2 separate regions of the Homo sapiens genome follow, and region 1 is linked to region 2. The links come from fine-mapping of genetic effects on gene expression. A gene starts in region 2. The other region holds a variant in brackets. All regions are shown on one strand. Distances are from middle to middle.

Evidence for each region. PIP is the estimated chance that this variant, and not a neighbour inherited with it, causes the effect.
Region 1: its variant is the best candidate, but not a certain one, in a credible set for the expression of STUM in tibial artery (GTEx, PIP 0.51).

Annotation. Positions count from the first base shown.
Region 1 is chr1:226,587,001-226,589,901 of GRCh38, reverse strand. The region is part of intron 1 of STUM (stum, mechanosensory transduction mediator homolog); the gene reads right to left. Among named protein-coding and RNA genes, the nearest start is that of STUM, 40 kb to the right of the region's middle. The variant C/T (reference allele first, on the strand shown) is at 1,379.
Region 2 is chr1:226,547,449-226,550,349 of GRCh38, reverse strand. It overlaps STUM (stum, mechanosensory transduction mediator homolog), which reads right to left and starts at 1,586. Exons shown (of 4, transcript NM_001003665.4): 1 at 1,244-1,586. The coding sequence starts at 1,445. RefSeq lists a silencer at 2,308-2,602.

The sequences.
Region 1 (2,901 bases), 40 kb before region 2:
AGGAATTAGCCTGGCAGATACAGAACGAGAAAATCACGCAACCTCATCAGAAATGAGTCCATGATTCTGGCCTTTCACTCTGTCCAACGGCTTCCCCCACATGACTCAGGGCTGGAGCGGGGAGATGGTCCTCTGCAGCAGGGACAGGGAGGCTGAGGCTGGCCCTGCGCATGCTGTTCCTGGAGGTCCCAGCTAACACTAACTGGCACAAGGAAAATGATGGTAATGAACTGTATTGTCAACCACCAAAATCAGTGTGTTGTAAGATACCTGGGACTTAGGCACAGACATGTGGTTTGCACGTCCTACCATGATCCTGGGAAGAAAGGCAGGCAGCAGAGGCCTGGGGAAGTCCTCCCACGGAGAGTTGCAGCAAAAACACAAGCAGAGCTGAGCCCTGGCTGCCATCACTGTGGTCTCTGTACTCTCAGCTTCCCCAAGGAGCTCCGGGCCCAGGCTCCAAGACAAGGCAGTAGGGAGAGAAAAGGGTCCCTCCACTTCCGTCCTGGGAGCCCCAAAGAGATTCTCTGGGCTTGTCCTCTGGGGAGAGTTCCTGGAGCTTGGCTGTCAGGCACGAGAAGAGAAGCAGCCAGGAGTGGCTGGTACAGTCTCCCATCAGGAAGGGGGCGGCTCTGCTCCCACGAGATAGAGCCTGAGAGCTGGAAGTGTCCTTGGAGTTCTCACCGGGTTCAGCTTTTCGCATGACTCACGTGGGAGCTTTGGGAGGTGCTGGGTCTGGAGAGGGGATCTTAAAGCCTCTTGGAACTCAGTGGGAGAAAGGCAGAGCTGTCTTCCGAAGCAGCTGCTTCAGAGTAAAAACTGCCCCCAGGACCTAGGCCAGCAAGTTGTTTGATCCCAGATGTCACCTCCAGCTGGCTCTGCAGTCATTATGATGTGCTGCTCCTCAGTGGCTGTGGTTTACACCTGGACACCCTCCCTCACTTCTCCGGAGGAGTTGGTTGAGGAAGGCCTTTTTTCAAGGCCTTACCCTGAATGTGAGCTTTGGGGGTCAGGAAGGAAATGTACAGCTGATTTTGAAAGCCAAAGAAACAGGTTCTTCACACCCTAAGAAACAGGACCCATTGCCAAGGGCTGCCTAGTTCAAGGCCAGAATAAGCTAAATGGGAGATTATGTTCAGGGTCAAAATCAGAGATTGCTAAAAATACACCTTCCCGGGCCCCACCACCCTAAGAGTCTGATTCAGGAGGTCTAGTCATCATCTTTGCCTCATTGTGCAATTATTTCAACCAGAAAGAAAAGGAAAGGAAAGAGAACTGACTACAAGTTTCACAAATACTTCTGGACAAGTCCCAGGGACACAGAATCAGCGTAGCCTTGAATGTGAATGGGGCCTATATGGCTGTGGCCTGAGTAAAC[C/T]AGAGGAGGCTGCAGAAAGCAAGGCCAGGGTCCTGGGCCACTCAAATGCTCTTCATGGCAACTCTTTTGGGTTCTGTTTTCTCAAGAAATGGAGCAGAAGATATGGGATATCCTGTGCTCATATGTGCTGAGGGAAGGCAGTGTCATCCTTTCAGCTCGGCCACTCCAGAACAGAGCACAAGAAGACCACACTAGGTGGGAGAGGAAGGTGTCAACCAAAGGGCATATCAGCGCAGGGTTCGAAGCTGAGCAGGTCTGCGGAGGGGCTGTGTCTTCCCCTAGAACTGCACCGAGTCATTCCCCTAGAAAGTGTTTTGTAGACCCAGCACTGTGTGCAGCCTCATGTCCTGGCCAGCAAGGAATTTGCAAGGAGGACTCAGAACATAAAACCGATCTGGAATAGTGCAGAGTAAAACATGAACAGTTCTAGCATCCTCATCATCCTGAACATCCACACACTTTTGCAGAATGAATCTGCCAGTGCCCTCGATGCCTCTATCCTGGAGCAGCAAAGGGTCTGTGAGTGGCTTTCAACATTAGAGAAAGCACAGACACCATAGTGAGGTCACACTGCCCATTGGAAAGCCGAACTTGCCAGCATTTCATTGTGATCCCATCACAATGCAGTAACTAAGGGGTCTTTCCTGCTATCGGCAGTTCCCAGTGGCCAATAACCCACCTTTGATCAACTAGAGATGGGAGAGTGGATTTATTATGGCTTAAATCTTTCCATGCATGGGTTTCATGGAAGAGAATGAGGAAGAGTGGACAGGTGGCCTTCTGTCTCCCAGCAGAGAGAAGGTGTATGGCATCTTGAACCACTTCTCCCTTAGCCTCAGCTGCTCCCCCACATCCAGAGGCCCTCTGTTCTCTCCCCAGTCAGAAAGTGCCAGCTTGGGACAAACCCTCTTCATTCCTCCCAGGGTCTCGGGTAAATGCTAAGGGTTCTCCGGCAAATGCGTTGGGATTGTGAGGTTTGAGGGGGTCAGGGGAACACGGTGGGGTGCGAGTCTTCAGGCAGACAAGGGGTGTACAGGTGAGACCCTGGTAAGTCACAGTCTGCAGGTGTATTGCGGCATCAGGTGGGCTGCAGCTGTTAGTGTGTGCCTTTGATTTTCCAACTGGCATAAAGGAAAGACGACAGGAGCCTTCTTGGATGCCACACATCCATCTGGTGTCCTTCCTTCCGAGGACAGAAGGAAAATGAGACCAGCTCCCTCCTCCATCCCCCTCAGTCTCCTGACTGTGACATCAGTTCTCATCCTGCTGGGGGTGAAGGCGACTGGAGCTAATAATTAATTTTAGTGGCGCCGGGTGTGCATCAGCTTCCCTGTGCTTATTAGCAAACCTCCTCTGCCCTCTGCCTGCCCCCTCCTAGACCTCTGATGTGCTCCCAGCCTGGGCACTCTGTGGCGGGGCTGGGGAGCTGCGCTACAGAACTGGACACCATAGGTCTCTTCAGGGGTCTTCCCAGGATGTTAAGCTGGAGCAGAAATTTAACCACATGGAATTTCTCAGTTCCC
Region 2 (2,901 bases):
AGGCTGCTCTGGCCGCAGCAGCCCCTTAGGGTAGAAAGACAAGTAAGCTCGGAGGGGAAAGTGAACGGGTCCTGCGTGGGTGGCTGTGGCCTTGGCTGTCACCGCAGCAGAGGCCCCTGCTAAGCAGGCGAAGAGCGAGGAGACCGTGAGAAAGGCCAAAGTCAAACTGAAAACCCCTTCCAGCTGGCCTCTGCTCTTGGGAACTTGGAACCATACGTTGGCAACAGGCTCGCCGACAGGGGCACGCTTTCTCCCGGAGAGGGCACTGGGGCGCCTGGTTCTTCGGGCGGGCACGGGAGAGGGGGGCACCTCCCAGCACGCAGGAGCAGCCAGTGCCAAGCTGGAGGAGGGGAGGGGCGTGCAGGCAGAGACCTGGGGGTGGAGTTAAGGGAGGGAGGGTCAGGAAAACTTCTCATTCCCTGCCTCCATTCACCCTCCTGCACCATCTCTGTAAGGGGCCTCTGCTTTAAAACGTGGGACATAGATGCCACCAGAACCCCTGCCGGCTGCCGGAGTCCTGCACAGAATTACATCGGCGCACTCTCTACTTCTCAGGAACAGAAGGGATCCGAGGGAGCTATGGGTTCATCTCTGGCCACATGCATCCAAACTAATAAAATCATCCCCCATCCCCCTGGCGCCCTGCGGGGTGCTGGCGGAAGTGCAGGTACCCCTGAATGAGGCGGAGGAGACTCTGGCTAGAGTTCTCGTCCCCACGCGGTCCGCACTCCGCGAACCAAAGGGGGCTGCAGGTATATCTAGCCCGGCTCGTCCTCTTTCCCCGGCTCAGCTGACTTCGACGCCCGGGAGTTTGATCCTCGCCGCCGAGGCCCTAGAGCTCATTCTGATCCGACCCCATTCCTCTCGGGGAAGTGGGCTCGCGGACGGATGCACACGACGGAGAGAAGGAGCAGAAATCGGGGCGCCGGGACGGGAGCCCTACTCCGAAGCCGGCAGAGCCATTCCGGCCGCCGCTGCGGGCTCCAACATTGGCCGCAAAGTTTCCGGCTCTTTGGGGCCCCGCCTGCGGGTCGGAGACCCCAGCGCAGCCTCTCCCCTCTGGGGTGCACACTCCACGCGCTTCTGCCACCTGCCCGGGGACGCCAGGAGCGGGCGGTGGCGCGTGGTCGCAGCACTTGGAGCGCGCGGCCCCGCCAGGAGGTCTCCGGCCGCGCCCTTCTCTCCCCCCACGCCCTCCCGCGGCGGGGTGGGGGTCGCAAGGGTCGCGGCAGCCGTGTCTTACCCAGTCCCGGCACGAAAGTGTTGAGGAAGAGGCAGATGACGGCCACGGGGAAGGGCATGTAGGGGATGGCGGCGCGCAGGGGGCCCTTCTTCTCGCGGACCTGCACCACCACCCCGCTGGACGAGGACGCCCCCCGGGGGTCCGCCGCCGCCACCGCCGCCGCCGCCGCCGCCGTCTCGGCGTCTTTGTGCGAGGGCTCCATGGCCGGGCGCGCTCTCAGGCAGCCGGGCAGCACGGCCGGAGCTGGCGCCCAGCGTACGGGAGCAGGAGACTGTCGGCTGCGGGCTCCGGGCTCCGCGCCGAGCTCAGGCGGCCGCCGTGCTCCGTGCGCCGCGCGGCTCGCGGAGACTCCCGCCCTCCGGCGTCCCCACACGCCCGGCGGAGGGGCGGGGAGGGCGGCGCGACACCCGGTGACAGCGCTCTGACGCCCCTCCTCGCCAGGCCCCTTCCCCGCCCCCTCCCCCCAACCAAAACCACCGCTCACAAGGAATGGAAAATCAGGGCGGAGGGAAAGCAGTGGAAGAGGACCGCAAAGGGAGCTGTTTGCCCAGGTGCTGGAAGGGGTGGACACACCTCGCCCTCCCAGACAGGTGAACTAGGAACCTTGACCACGAAGCCCTGCGAACTGGGAGTGTGTGCTTGGCTGACACCGTCGGGAAAGCCTCGAGGCTGAGTCCCCTGATCTAGAGCAAGCCTTTGGCCAGGGACATGGGGACAAGGGACGGACCGCGCGGCGCCTGACACCTAGTCGGCCTTCAGTGCATTGTGATTTAAATGATTTTGTTTGGGGCGAGCGCAGTGGCTCCCGTCTGTATTCCCCACTTTGGGAGGCCAAGGTGGGAGAATTACTTGTGCCCAGGAGTTCGAAACCAGCCTGGGCAACGTAGCGAGACCCCCCCCCCCCCGCCCCAGCTCTATTTTGTAAAAAAAAAAAAAAAAAAAAAAAATCACTTAAAAAATATATAGGAGTGAATTTGTTTCAAGTGTCAGAGAAAAAGCAATCCAGAGATCGGATCGATAATAGAGGAAACAGATTTGCAAACACCAGGCCAGGTCTCCGCAAGACTAGTTAAAAGATGGGACACTTCCCTACACACACGCACCAAAAGCAGAAAGAAATGCGCCTGTTGCAGGCTTGTTGGGAAGCGTTCACCATCCCCTGAACTATACTGGAGGAAACCTGAGCCTTCTGTGAGCCCGACGTGGTGGTTAAAGAGCCAGTGAGGACACAGCGCCGTCTGGCGTTAATAATGGGGCAGTTGGTAGAAGCAACAGCCGGCAGCTTGAGGTCCTGTTTGAATTCGATTTTCTGAATAAGGCTGCTTCGCCTCCGCACCTGGAAAAAGTAAACGGATGAAAGTTACCGCCTCTAACGTTAGGGAGGGGTTAAAGGCTTCGGAATTATCCAGACAGTCAGCAAATCGTCTGAATAATTGGAAGGGTGCAATAGCCTCCCTTCAGGAATAATAGTGATTATTATTATAAACAACCCAGGGTCTCAGAAGAGGCTAAAAGAACATGGGTTATTGTATACTTATACTTATTGTATAAGTCTCTGAATAAAATAATTTTAAAAGCAAATGGCCAGGGGTTAGTGATGATACTGGTGGACACACACATGCGTGTGTACACATACACAGATACACACACACACGAGT